3 linked regions of the Homo sapiens genome follow. The protein of the gene in region 3 interacts with the protein of the main gene of each other region in a pairwise test. Each region holds a gene or a part of one and is shown on either strand. Other genes may lie near its edges.

What was found. Proteins that work in one complex are often made in the same cells at the same time.
Region 1: the proteins of PRKAA2 (region 3) and RBPMS interact in binary tests that used the Homo sapiens proteins (3 or more experiments, as listed by UniProt).
Region 2: the proteins of PRKAA2 (region 3) and NRBF2 interact in binary tests that used the Homo sapiens proteins (3 or more experiments, as listed by UniProt).

What each region holds. Positions count from the first base shown.
Region 1 is NC_000008.11:30,569,494-30,572,756, reverse strand, and holds the end of RBPMS (RNA-binding protein with multiple splicing), read right to left. Parts: intron 2,121-3,263; coding exon of another isoform or gene 2,027-2,120; 3' UTR 501-2,026; downstream 1-500.
Region 2 is NC_000010.11:63,136,281-63,143,327, reverse strand, and holds part of NRBF2 (nuclear receptor-binding factor 2), read right to left. Parts: intron 1-7,047. UniProt on the Homo sapiens protein: May modulate transcriptional activation by target nuclear receptors. Can act as transcriptional activator (in vitro). Involved in starvation-induced autophagy probably by its association with PI3K complex I (PI3KC3-C1).
Region 3 is NC_000001.11:56,711,294-56,715,862, forward strand, and holds the end of PRKAA2 (5'-AMP-activated protein kinase catalytic subunit alpha-2), read left to right. Parts: 3' UTR 1-4,042; downstream 4,043-4,569. UniProt on the Homo sapiens protein: Catalytic subunit of AMP-activated protein kinase (AMPK), an energy sensor protein kinase that plays a key role in regulating cellular energy metabolism.

The sequences.
Region 1 (3,263 bases), on a different chromosome or scaffold from region 3:
AGGACCACAGGTGCTAGTACTCCTGGCTAATGTTAAAATTGAGGGTCTTGCTGTGTTGTCCAGGCTGGTCTCAAACTCCTGGGATCAAGCAAGCCTCCTGCCTCAGTTTCCCAGTGTTGGGATTACAGGTGTGAGCCACCATGCCTGGCGTAAGATATATTTAAGTCAGCAGAAAACCCAAGTGACATTTTAATATAATTCAGATAATCCTGAGTCAAGCTTTGTAGGCTGAGGTAGATGAGGGGCCTCCCTTGAGGTCCCTCTGCCTCTGGTGTCATTGTGGGTCACCAGCCACTGTGGTTGTGCGTTTGCAGACTTACTCTCTGGCTTTCCCCGGTATCTGCTTCCTCCTTTAATCTCTTTGTGCCTAAGCTCAATGGCCAATGCTTGCTTAGCTCTGCCGAAGCCTGACAATGGGAATGAAATCTGCTGGCGTCTTGTCTGCAGTGTGGGATACATGTAGTTGGTCTTGCTAAAAAAGAATTTGTCAAGCAATGGTGTGACAGCTGGAATAAGCACTTTATTTTTTAAAAATGACAATAGAAAAGTACCTTTAAACAGTTATAAAAGCATAATAGACTGCAGAAGTGGCTATTTTCCTTAGGAGTACAGTCATCTCACCAAGAGCCGATTGGCACTGAGGGCATAAGCAGGTCCTTGAACACCAAAGTGGATCCGTCACAAGTCCTTGAGCTAACTGCCTTTTCCCCTTATTTACGGTAAGAAAGAGCCCCTCACTCCTGGCCTTGGTTTTTTGTGTTGACCTTTAAAAGCTTCTTGACATCTTTATATTTCTAATGGAAAATAACAAAACAAAAACCCAAACCAACCAGGTAATCATGACATTGAAATTTTCAACATAAGCCGAGCGGATCAATAGGAAAGACTGTGTTTGGCAGCTGAATTTAGGTCAGTGTGGTTTTACAAAAATGGCTTCTGTACAAGGGGAGAGGTTGAGCTGTCATGAACTCTGGAGATGTGTCAACTGACAACACCAGACTGACTTTGGCTTTGACGAAGTCTGAATAGAATTGGTTCCAAATGCCCACTGCCTCCGTCTCCTGTGGGGTGTGGCAGGACGTCTCACAGTGAGCACACGCCATTTGGGAGCTCATGGTATGTGGTCGGTTTGGCCCAGTGCTGCCAAGAGTTGGCAACACCAGCTCAGTTCAGCCGGTGTTTTGCAAACAAACATCACTTTGGAGATACAGACATGAGCTGCCCACTGCAGCCAGGTGGGCTGGGCACAGCCAACCCCTTCAAGGGCCAGGGCTGGCCTCCCAAGCCAAGGTTTTCCCTTACCAGTGAGGCAGGCTCTGCACTTACACTGCGGGAGCAGGGATGCGGGGCTGGCTTGTGGAAGGTAGGTTAGGCATCGAGTGGCTACACATACAGGAGAGTGGAAACATAAAACTGTACAAAGTCACACTTGGCACACAGTTGATATAGTCACAGCTGGAGCTACTAGGGCTTTCTAAGGGCACACTCAGCAGTTCTTACCAATGATGTTTTCTTGCCCAGTTGTGAATAAGCCATAGGTAGAAGCTCCTGGAGGCTTCTGGTTGATTGTCTTGCAGGGCTGTCCTACTAGAACTGGGATCCTAGACCTAACACTGCAAATAACAGTTCTGTTTCTAACATCTAACACCATGCTACTAATTTACCCTGGACTCCGGCCAGGCACAGATTTCTATATATTCACAATACAATTCAGGATATTTTGATAATATTTGGAAACATGCCTCAAACATGCAACTTACTTCAGAGGAAAAAAATAGATATTTTTAATTACAAGCATTCAAAAGTCAAGAACAAAAACTGTGATCCAAACCAGTGTAAGATCGTCCATCCCAGCATACTTAAAATGTTTGGTATAAAAATACTCACTTTTCTTGGTTTTATTGTTGACTTCTCTTACGTTTCGTTTGAAAATATCTCCAAACTGTACAGAAATTTCAGACCATGCATTCACAAATAATACGCTATTTCTTACAATTATACAGTGTAAAAGAGTAAAACATTTTTATTAATTATATTTTTTTCTTCGAGAAAAACAGATGTGTGATAGAGGCTGTGACAAAGTCTTGAAGGGATCAAAACTGGGCAAGGGTTTTTCAAGCCTGAAACAGAAAGAAAACATGTTAGGAGAGCAGGTGTCAACCCCTCCCTAGTTGCGATGGCTTTGTCCTGGAGATGCTGTGGATGGGAGAACGGATGGGTTAGATGACAGTGTGCGGATGTGTGTATAGAACATATTTGCTGACCACATGTGTCAGTGGTCTCACCTTGATTAGAAACATGGGGCAAGTCCTTGGCTCCCGCTCACAAACCCCTACCCTGGCCCAGAGGTTTTCTTGAAACACATCTCAGCTATATTGTATTATTCAGTCACTCCTTTTCCTGCCATCTTACCAGCATGTCACACACGTTTGAGAAGTTGTAGAAAAGGTGTATGCAGAAGGCAATCAATCAGCTCAGCATACACTAGAATTTTGTACAGGGAGATGCTTATTTGTGTGCCGAAAGAGGCCATAAACAGATAATTATTGATAACCTATTTAAATGTCCCAAGTTAGATTTTGTCCCAAGTTAGATTTGGGAAAATGTGTTTTAAAAAGTCCTGAAATGAGAATATTTAGGTGACCACTGAAACATAGCGTACGGGATGAGCTTGTAAATGTTCACACCAAATCTGTCCAATTTGTATCTGACCTGTGACTTTTCACTGCCCAGTTTTTGGACGACAGTATGAGTGGGTAGCGGGTAACGGCCGGCGGAGCAGGGGCAAGCCAGGCAGAGCTTTCCACAGTGGGCCCTGGACACCCTGGACCTTCTCTGTGACGGGCGACTAATACTTGCCTGTCTCTTTAGGTTGTGGCAAATAAATAATGACATTAGTTCTAGCACATCCGCTTAAGTATGCTTACTGTAGACAGCCCTCAAGGCAGCCAAATCCAGACTCATCCCTGTGCACCCCTGGCCTGTCCCTGCCCTTTACACCGACCTCATTTCCTGTCCTCTTGGCTCATCTGCTCCTTCCACTCCACCATCACCATCTTAGGGCCACCTGTGCAGAAGTGTGCTTCTACCTCGAATCTTCATCTACTTTGCTTTGGGCAGCATGACAACAACATTCCTAAATCACTCTCCACCCCTGCTCATCTTTCCAGTGGCTTCCAAATCCCTAACACATCCTTCAAGGCCTTCAAAAGCCTGGCCGCAGTCTACTTTCAGCAGAGCGTGCCGTGCCTGTTCTTACTTCC
Region 2 (7,047 bases), on a different chromosome or scaffold from region 3:
AATCATACTCAGTATAAAACACAGGTGAAGACAAAAGTAGAAAACAGCACTTCCAGCAATGCCTTGCTGTTTGCCTTTTCCCCACTTCTATTTTTGTAGGAAAGAAGCAACAATCTTAAAGACAAGATTCGTGCCTTTCAATTACAGGATTTCAGATACTTTTTATTTTTTAAATAGTAATCAAACTTTCCTCTAAGTCTTAACATATGCCTGGGAACAACAATAGGTCACAAGAAATGACTGGGTAGGCTGGGCGCAGTGGCTCATGCCTGTAATCCCAGCACTTTGGGAGGCTGAGGCAGGCAGATCACTCAAGGCCAGGAGTTTAAGACCAGCCTGGCCAATATGGTGAAACACCATCTCAACTAAAAGTACAAAAATTAGCCAGGCATGGTGGCACATGCCTGTAATCCCAGCTACTCAGGTGGCTGAGGTACAAGAATTGCTTGAACCTGGAAGGCGGAGGTTGCAGTGAGCTGAGATCGTGCTACTGCACTCTAGCCTGGGCAAGAGAGCAAGACAGCCTCAAAAAAAAAAAAAAAAAAAAGAAAGAAAGAAAGAAAAGAAATGACTGGGGGCTTAAAATAATGGATGAATTTTAACCTGGAGACTTGGACTGAGCAAAAAATACATTCTGAACACATGAGCATTTTCTAGTACCCACAAATTATACAGGTATTTTGGGAAAAGAATGTACATGATGAAGAAAGCTAGTATGCACAAGCAGTTATGATTAACCTAATTTCTCTAATGAACATGTTTTGATACTATTAAAGCAAGTGGTATTAAATCAATAAGCAATAAGGCTCTAGGTTTTAATGAAAATACAAATCACCTGGTTAAAATACAGATTCTAAAAGGCCGGGCATGGTGGCTCACACCTGTAAGCCCAGCACTTTGAGAAGACGAGGCAGGAGAATTGCTTGGACCAGGGCGGCAGAGGTTGCAGTGAGCTGAGATCGTGCCATTGCACTCCAGCCTGGGCAACAAGAGTGAAACTCCATCTCAAAAAAAAACAAAAAAAACAAAAAAAACAAAGGTTCTGATTCAGGAGGTTTGGAGTACGGCTTGAGATTCCACCCAGGTAAAGCCAAAGTTGCTGGCTTATGGATACACTCTAAGAAGCAGGGATGAGATGCTATTTCAGGTTACTTCATTCTAACACCTTTTTTCTATCTGTGTGTGTCGCTGATGATTTCAATCACTTTCTTCTAGTATGGATATTTATGTAGCTCCATAATTAAACTTCAAACTCTGTGATGACGGAATAAATTCTTAATTGAACACCAAAAAAATAAAAAGTTCTCAAACAGTGAGAGCAGGTCCTCATGGCTCTCCCAGCTCCCTTAAAACATCCCCATGTAGAGTCCAATCTCTAACCAGTCTGCCAATTTAGGAGTTAAATCTCATTATAGTTTCAGATTATTACTGAGCTCAACAAAAACACACCATCTCCTCTAGGTTATTTGGCACCAGAGCAATCAAATTTCGTATTTTAAGTACATTTCCTACTATGTTCTTATCAGACACACAGCAAACTCGTTATAGAGCTCGACTGCCAACGTTCAAATCTCAGTTTGACCACATATGAGACACATAAGCCCGGCTTTCCCAATTATCTGCCTCAGTTTTCTCATCTCTAAAATGAAAGTTATTGTCTGCTTATGTAAATTTGATGGCACCAAAAACAAAAGAGTTTGTGAAAATTAAACTAGTTGAAACATCACAGTGCTTAGAATGGTGCCTGGTACTGGTACATACTCGATATAGCCCTCGTTAAGTACTACAAAAGACAATAGAAGTGATGGAAGTACCTGCCATCAAGAAGTTGACAATATAGTTGGGTCTAGACTGAATTGCATTTTAAAAAAATTTTCATCTTAATTACTTTTGAGACAGGGTTTTGCTCTGTTGCCCAGGCTGGAGTGGAGTGGTGCAATCATAGCTCACTGCAGCCTCAATATCCTGGGCTCCAGCAATCCTGCCACCTCAGCCTCCTGAGTAGCTGGAAATACAGTCACACGGCACCACATCCAGCTAACTTTTATTTTTTGTAGAGGTGGGGTCTTGATATCTTGCCCAGGCTGGTCTCAAACTCCTGGGCTCAAGCAATCTTCCTCCCTCACTCACCCAAAGTGCTGGAATTATAGGCATGAGCCACCATGCCCAGCTAAATTGCATTTTTTATAAACTGAAGATTTTACAGAAAACCTATCTTGGTGGTGCTTCTCATTTTTAAAACAACTTTTACAGTTTACACATATTAAAACTAGTCTCTCTTTAAATACTGTTCTTGGTAGAATCACAGCCATTAAAAGCACTAGGCTGAGGCCAGGAGCGGAGGCTCACGTCTATAATCCCAGCACTTTGGGAGGCCGAGGCAGGCAGATCACGAGGTCAGGAGTTTGAGACCAGCCTGGCCAACATAGTGAAACTTCATGTCTACAAAAAATACAAAAATTAGCCAGACATGGTGGCGCCCACCTGTAGTCCCAGCTACTCGGGAGGCTGAGGCAGGAGAATCGCTTGAACCTGGGAGGCAGAGGTTGTGGTGAGCCGAGATTGCGCCACTGCACTCCAGCCTGGGTGACAGAGTGAGACTCCATCTCAAAAAAAAAAAAAGTAATAGGCTGGGCACGGAGGTTCATGCCTATAATCCCAGCGCTCTGTGAGGCCGAGGTGGGAGGGCTGCTTGAGACCAGCATAGGCAACATAGTGAGACCCCATCTCTACAAAAAATAGAAAAATTAGCTGGGTGTAGTGGTGCACACCTGTAGTCCCAGCTACAGGAGGGACTGGTAGGAGGATCAGAAGCTCAGGAGGTTGAGGCTACGGTGAGCCGTGATTACGCCACTGCACTCTAGTCTGTGGGACAGAGGAAGATACTGTCTCAAAAAGAAAAGGGTAGTAAGTCCATAAACATGTTTCTCTGGTAATTCAAAGAAATTCACAATAAAGCAGTCCCACCTCTGTGTACTTCCTAGGCAATCCATATGATTCTGTGGGACTTCCCACATTCTTTTTTAATTGCTTGATGGGTTACGTTAGATTGAGGTCTACAGCTGTGGTTGCCCATCATTTCTGACAGATGATTCGTTTTGTAAACAGCTGACATAAACTTATGGTATTGATAACTATAGTATAGAACTATATTTTCTCTTCCTTATGATTTCCTTGCTGTTTTTTTTGAGATGGGGTCTCATTCTGTCACCCAGAGGCTGGAATGCAGTGGCATGATAACGGCTCACTGCAGCCACAACCTCCTGGGCTCAAGTGATCCTCCTATCTCAGCCTCTCAAGTAGCTGGAACCACAGACATGTGCCACCATGCTCAGCTATTTTTTTTTTTCTTTTGGTAGAGACCGGTTTTCACTATGTTGCCTAGGCTGGTCTTGAACTCCCGGGCTCAAGCAGTCCACCTGCCTCGGCCTCTCAAAGTGCTAGGATTACAGGTGTGAGCTACCATACCAGGCCCACATTGTTGTATTACCTTGTCGTCTGGATACCTAAAGAATCCCTTCTCCAGATTTTCAAACTTAGGAGCAGACAATATGAAGAAAGTCTAATTAATGTGACATTCAGAGGCTAGCCAGGTGGAAATATAGGTCTGCAGAAAGGAGGAGTGAAGCAGACAAGCCTGAAAAGGCAAAAAAAGAGAGGGAGAGTCTGATTAAGTCGGACTGACAGGCTCTATACGGTCATAAACCAAGCTACATTATACCCCTGCCCTTCCTGCACCTTTCTTTGGAGTCCAGTAAATTATCTCTTTTGGCTTAAGCTAATTTCAAGTGGGTTTTCATCAACTACAACCAACAAAAATCCTAACTACAACAACTAGGTTACTAAGTGACTGCCATCACTGACAAGTACCTTTTACTTCCACATGCTAACTGCTTCAAAAATACATGTTCAATACTACCCTCTTTCCCAAAAGAAAACAGTATTACTTTCTATTATTTTTTTCTGTGTCCTTGGGGAAAGCTGTTAAGTAAAGATGAAAAGAAAAGGAACACCAGGCCAGGCGTGGTGGCTCACGCCTGTAATCCAGGCACTTTGGTTTGGGAGGCCAAGGTGGGCAGATCACGAGGGCAAGAGTTCGAGACCAGCCAGACCAACGTGGAGAAACCCCATCTACGCTAAAAATACAAAAATTAGCCAGGCATGATGGCACGCGCCTGTGGTCCCAGCTACAAGGAAGGCTGAGGCAGGAGAATCGCTTGAACCCCGGAGGCGGAGGTTGTGGTGAGCTGAGATTACGCCATTGCACTCCAGCCTGGGCAACAGAGTGATACTCTGTCTCAAAACGAAAAAGAAAAAAAGAAAAGGAACACCATATGAACACAGCACTGAAAAGGCAGCAGAGGAAAATCTAACATACACCTGACCTTATGGTAGGGTCTTCAGTTGAAAGAGAAACCTCACTCACTCCCCCTTTCCCAATCAATGTGCGTCTCCTACAAACAAGTAGCAAACAGTTATCTCAAATCAATAAGCACTGAATTGACTAAGTAATATAACGCAATTATACTGAAGATAAGCGCTCAAGTGTTGGAGAATTCCAGGAAAGACTTTTTTTTTTTTTTTGAGACAGAGTCTCGCTCTGTCGCCCAGGCTGGAGTGCAGTGGTGCGATCTTGGCTCACTGCAAGCTCTGCCTCCCGGGTTCAGGCCATTCTCCTGCCTCAGCCTCCCGAGTACCTGGGACTACAGGCGCCCGCCACTGCACCTGGCTAATTTTTTGTATTTTTAGTAGAGACGGGGTTTCACCGTGTTAGCTAGAATGGTCTCGATCTCCTGACCTCGTGATCTGCCCGCCTTGGCCTCCCAATTTTTTTTTTTTTTTTTGCGACAAGGTCTCGCTCAGTCGCTCAGGCTGCAGTGCAGTGGCGTGAGCTTGGCTTACCACTATCTTCACCTCCCAGGTTCAAGCGATTCTCCTGTCTCAGCTTCCCAAGTAGCTGGGATTATAGGCATGTGCCACCACACCTGGCTAATTTTTGTTTTGTTTTGTTTTTTGATACGGAGTTTCACTCTGTCACCCAGGCTGGAGTGCAAGGGCGTGACCTTGGCTCACTGCAACCTCCACCTCCTGGATTCAAGCGATTCTCCTGCCTCAGCCTCCCAAGTAGCTGGGATTACAGGCACCCACCACCACACCTGGCTAATTTTTGTTTTTAGTACAGACAGGGTTTCATCTTGTTGGCCAGGCTGGTCTCGGTGACCTACCCACCTCAGTCTCCCAAAGTGCTGGGATTACAGGCATGAGCCACTGTGCCCAGCCCAATCTTGCCTTCATATCCTACTATCACCACTTACCCTGCATTTCAAAGTCTTCATCTTTAAAATAGGGGGAATATCTCATATTTAGCTATTAAGAGGAAAAGATAAAAAATATACATAACGTGCCCGATGCCAATCCTACCACTTAGCAATAATTGCTGGATATCTCTTAGTACTCTCTACCTCCTTTTTCCAGAGTGCTTTCATTATGCCTAGCTCAGCTTGTGACAAAGAAATTTTCCTTGGAATTTTTCAGGGCAACAAAGAAGGGGTTCAAATTGCCTCTTTTTACCTTGAAGATTTTAAAGCCAATATAATTAAAATGGGATAGGTATAAGGACTCCAGGTATGCATAAGGCCATTCCTTGGACCATGATATCTGACTACTTTTCTTACAGAAGCTGGAAAGTAAGAGGCTTCATTAACTACCTCATGTGATGTGAGAACTGACCACTCTGGAGGGAAGCTGTTACTCAACAAACATTCTCAGCACTCTTAAGGGCTAAACACATAGAAAACGATTGTGGCCAGGCAGTCACATGGACCCTGCCCTTTGCAGCAGAGGTAAGCAAAACATGAGCAACAGCCACATATAAATTAAGATCTGACATCACTTTCCAAATCAGCAGCAAACAAACCAAAGAACTAGAAATTATCTCACAAGAGTTTTGACATTTGTTACCAGTAGTCACACTGACAAAATGTGTACGGAAAGAAATATCTAAATATACACTAATTTTATAAGTTATAATTTTTCCATATTTAAAACTGACAGGCTGGGCACAGTGGCACATGCCTGTAATCCCAACACTTTGGGAGGCTGAGACAGGAAGATTGCTTGAGGCCAGGAGTTCAAGACCAGCTTGGGCAACACAGCAAGACCCCATCTCCACAAAAAGTTTTTGAAAAAATTAGCTGGGCATGGTGGTGCAAACCTGTAGTCCCAGCTATTGTGGAGGGCTCAGGCAGGAGGATCCCTTGAGTGTGGGCAACAGAGTAAGACCCTGTCTCTTAAAGAAAAATTGACCAAAAAACCCTAATGAAACAAAGTTATTCAGAGTGCAAAGACTAGCTATTTTTTTCTTCAGTGGAAGTACAATTTTTCTTTTGACAAACTTCAATAACCAGATAATTAGAATCCATTACCTCTGTGGTACATATTAAAATGAATATTTCAAACTAGTCTCTTCCAGATCTTAAAAATTCACTGTGAGGAATTTCTAAGGCCCTTACTGCCAAACCTAACATAAAAGAATCAATACTGGAGCAGAGGTAATAAATGCTAACACAGAATCTACAGTTCAATATAGATGAGAACCATACTGAAATGAACATGATGAGTACAATATGGCAGCATTGCTAGAAAGAGGTCTTGATATCAAAATAACTCGTGATTCATAATGTATTTAAGTTACTGACCTAAGTAATTACCTAATTCTCTCAGCTTAGGCTTATTTATCTGTAAAACTGGAAAACACACCTTACTAAGTTCCGAGGATGCTCTGAGGACACATGATTACAAATCCATGTACTGTGATAAGTCCTTATACAATGAATTTGGACTACACTACGACGTCATTTGACAAAGCTTATTGCATTAGTAACTCTCTGAGTATAGAAAAAGAAAAAGCTTGTATAATACTAGTGGAATTTTCAAAGACATTCAAATTATAGCATTGAGAACTCTCATCTTGAGTCAACTAGATACTAAGTTAGGTGTTCACTGACATAAAAGAATGTCAGAATTTTCATAGCCGGGCAGGGTGGT
Region 3 (4,569 bases):
ATAGTTTAGAAAAAATCATAAGCAACTATTGTAGATTTTTGATCTGTTTGGATTTATCTGTAGCATTGAATAATGTGCAGTGTACTGAGTTAATGTAGGCACCTCACTTTGGATTTATAAAATGTAAAAACCTGGAACATGCCTGCCACAGACACCACTTTGTCTATTCACCGGGTACTAATTTACATCCTATTAATGGTTGTAAAAGCTGAGTGTCTAAATGCTAGACATGTTCACAATTTTGTCTGTTTTTGTTTATTTGTTTTTAAGACCCAAACCTTTTCAATCTTGCATTTATTTACTTGGTTCTCCTGTGTCACCCTGTGGCTTTTTAAATAGGGAATGTAATTTATTTTAATAGTAGTTCTCAAAGACTCTATTAAAAACTCTGGACGAGGGATATGTGCAATCTGTTGGTAAGTCACATCCTATGTTTGGCCTCATTTTTATAACTCCTAAAATGAGAAAGGTAGATTTTAACACTTCTAAGGTACCTTTGAGCTTTAAAGTTCTTTTCTGCTTTTCCATATGATTTGTGTTAGTGTTCACTTTTTATATATTTAGAGTTTTTATATGAGTGTGAATGTTTCTGTTTTGATTTGGTGAGGCATGTCAGAGGTATATACTTGAATATTTTTCTAAATACAGCTGCTGGAGGAATGCAAATGGCAAAAATCATCCAGAAAACCAAACACGGTGAAACATCACATCCATTTGGCATGAAGCAAAGCATTACAAATTTGGAGTGATGAAAGTGTTCCATATATTTTTTATAGTGATTTTTCGATCTAGAGACCCTTCATATTGTTTACTTACTATTACGATAACTTTGAGAGGTAACCAGAGAAAGCATTTTTGCCATTTCCAGATGAGGAAGCAGGACCAGAAAGCTCTTCATAAAGCTTTAACACCATACAAGTATCCAGCAGTGATCAATTGCTCTTTATAGGAAACCACCTTTCCTCTGGGGAAGAACAGTCTGAATTAATAAAACATCAGAGTGGTTGAGTAGTAAAAATAAACACAGATGTATTGCTTTCAAGTCTTAGAGTGACATAAAGTAGTCTTAAATAAATAGTTCTTAGTTTATTTTAAGCAGTTGATTGTACTAACGAGATGTAATTATCTGAAGTATTTATGATTAGCATATTGGTTTTTATAAGTATTTCTGAGTTATTGAGGGTGCTTAAAAATGCTGAAGAAACTTTAAAACATGATTCTTCTTATAATTTTATGTGATTCTTATAGCACAATCATTTTTGAAAAAGGAAAACTAGGCTGGGTGTAGTGGCTCATGCCTATAATCCCAGCACTTTGGGAGGCCAAAGTGGGTGGATCACCCGAGTTCAGGAGTTCGAGACCAGTCTGGCCAACATGGTGAAACCTCGTCTCTACTAAAAATACCAAAATTATCCGGTGTGGTGACAGGCTGCTTGTAATCCCAGCTACTCGGGAGGCTGAGGCACGGGAATCTCTTGAACCTGGGAGGCAGAGATTGCAATAAGCCAAGATCATGCCACTGCATGCCAGCCTGGGTGACAGCACAAGACTGTCTCAAAAAAAAACAAAAAAAGGAAAAAGAAAACTAGCCCCAGTCCCTGTCTAAATTGTTATAGTTTTTGACTATTATCTGAATTAGTCTTATCCAAATTTCATATGCAGATTGATTTTTCATTTTGTATGTATATTACATGATATAACTATTTTCATAGAATATATTTCTAATTTACAAACACTGAATTATTAGCTTGATAGAGTTTCTCCCAAACCTTATAAAACTTTGAAATGTACTTATGTTTGAGCTTTAAAAATTATAAAAACTTCATTTAAACAAGTTGCTGGCATCATTACTAGCCTTTCCACCTATAATTATGATGCATTTGATGCCACTGAACAGTAATAGCACAAAGAACAGGTCACACAGTCTAGACTGGATTGAGTTTTAATTAAACTTCTTCATCCATAGCCTGATAAGAATCAGGCTGGGTCTAGAAGAGTTATCAGACTGTAGGCCTGTATTAATTTTGCAAGCTAATGTTAATGTTTACTGCCAGCCTTGCATAGCAATGCCAGTTTGCAGTTGTGACTATGATGTGACTTTTGGTAAAAATGGTTTATATCTAAAGTAGTTTAGATTTTATGGAAGTGGCTCTTGATTGTTTGGACAAGCAGGGTAGGTAAATTTCAATTACGTTTGAAGTGTAATTAAATCCTAGAATAGAGCACTCTCCAGAAAAAAAAATGAAAAAAGAATTTGGAGAATATCCTGGCATGAAAACTTTTTTGAATAATACGTAGAATTTTGACAAGGTTCATACAGTGCATACAGTGTGACCTTTTCTGAGGTGGGCAGGGAGGGTTGCTACGTTGTGTTGATTTAAAATTTCAAGGAGGAACAAAAACATTCTAGCCAAGGAGAATTGCATTGTTATTTTTTTTTCTACTAATTTAAACGTGCATTTTTCACAGTTACACATTTAAGTTTTGCTACCAAAAATGGCCATTTTTCTAGACAGATAACATTTTCCTAAAGTGGAAGAGAGATCCACTGTTCTAAAAAAAAAAAAAAAAAAAAACACTAAATTGTGCCTTCTCCCTTAAATTATAAGAAGAGTAATAGTAAAAACTTGTTTAAACTATATTTTCTTTTTTTCTAATCCCTCTCAGTTCTCCTTAGATCTGCCTCCTACAAATGATCATGTTGTTTGCATCTGCCTGATTGAGTTCCCTTGGTCAAACCTCTCCCTATCACTATCAGAAGTTGTTCACTAAATGTATTTTCCTATTTCTTTCATGTTGATTGACTTTATAAGTCACCTTGGTAAACATAACATTTGGCTACCTTCTCATGCTTTATAAATGAATTTGATGAATGGCAGTTTTTATATTTTAACCCTTTAAAAAGTTTGTCAAGGAAACAACTCAGAGCTAAGAACAAAATCTAACTTGGAATCAGTTTCTTCCTTTGGCTGCTGAAGCAGCAGCAAGTCACGTAACCTCATTTAGTTTTTTGATTTACAAAATGTGGATAATAACCTACCTCACAGATGTGTGTGAGCAACTGTTTGAAAGCCCTTGTTTAAATACAGGGTTTATATCCCCACATTCAATGTAAATTCCTTTTTTTAAAAAAAATAAGTATCTTTGATACTGATAGGATGAGTATCTTGATTTTTAGGTAAGATCACAGTTTCACAAATTGTGGTGTTGTTAGGTGACATTTAATATTTCTTGAGACCTCAAGTATTCAAATATCAAACTTGTCCTGTGTTGTAACAAATATTCAGAATCTCTTAAAATGTTGGCTGAAGCTGCCTTAATGTACCAAAATACAGCTCTCAAGACTGTTCACAAATATCTGTGGTTGTACAATGTTTTGAACATTTAATGTAAAGTTGTTGTAGAACTGTGAACTCTAAGGATAGTATCTTTATTGTTTTAGGAAGAATGGTTGTGTTCTTTGTCATGTATGCTTAAATATACAGTGGATTTTGAATGCAACAAATAAAACTGAAAACAGCCATTTGGTTGTGTCATGACAATCATAATATAGGATATAATATTTACTTTTTTTCAAAAACATCCTGCATTCATTCATTCTTAGCATACCTTTGAAAAAGAAAAAAAAATCCATAGGTTGATACATTGACCCATTGAAGTACTTCATTACGTATTTATTGAAAATTTTTTTTAATTGTTGAAATTGGGACCACTTTTTATAATTGGTTTCAAGAAAAAAAAATGAACAGACTTCCAGTGCTTTTCTGTTCAAATAAACTCCGATTCAAATTTCAGTTTTGTTTGTTATATACTTTTTGTGAGTGTTAAATGATATGGGAAGGATTTGTCTTTCATTAACCATATGGAAAAGATGTCTTCCTGAATTACATAGCATTTCATAGTTACAGATTCTTCCTAATTAATGTTTGCACCATATGAAACTCATAGGTAACAAACACAAAGGAGAAAAGCAGCCTGTCTGATTGCTTATAAGCTTTTTTCACAAAATCAAATTAAAAGTCTCTGATTCATTTGAAAGCTATTTTTGTTTCTGCTCCATCATTATGCTGGTATTCTGCACACCAACTAATAGTTACAGGAAAGTTGTTAGTGGAAAAGATTGCCTATACTCATTGGTGATTTCACACCATCTTTTTTCATTTTTGTCATCTTAGTTGTACATTATAGTTTTTAACTTGAGTTATTGCATTGGTTTTCTACTGTTGCTGTAACAAATTACTACAAACTTAACGACTTAAAATACAAATTATTTTATTGTTCTATATGTTAGAAACCCAGCAGGCTTAGCTGGTTTTTCTGCCTCAAGTCACACAAGCTGAAAACCAAAGCATTGATAGGGCTGGGCTGTGGAGGAGAATCTGTTTCCAGTTGCATTGAGTTGTTGGCAGAATTTCATTCCATGGTGCTGTAGGATTGAGGTCCCTGTTGCCTTTTTGGCTGTTGGCTAGGAATCATTTAAAGCTTCTAGAGGCCATCATCCCTTGGCCCTTGGCTCCCTTCATCTTCAAAACCAGCAACAAGTGGCTTATGGGTTGGATCTCTTCTTCC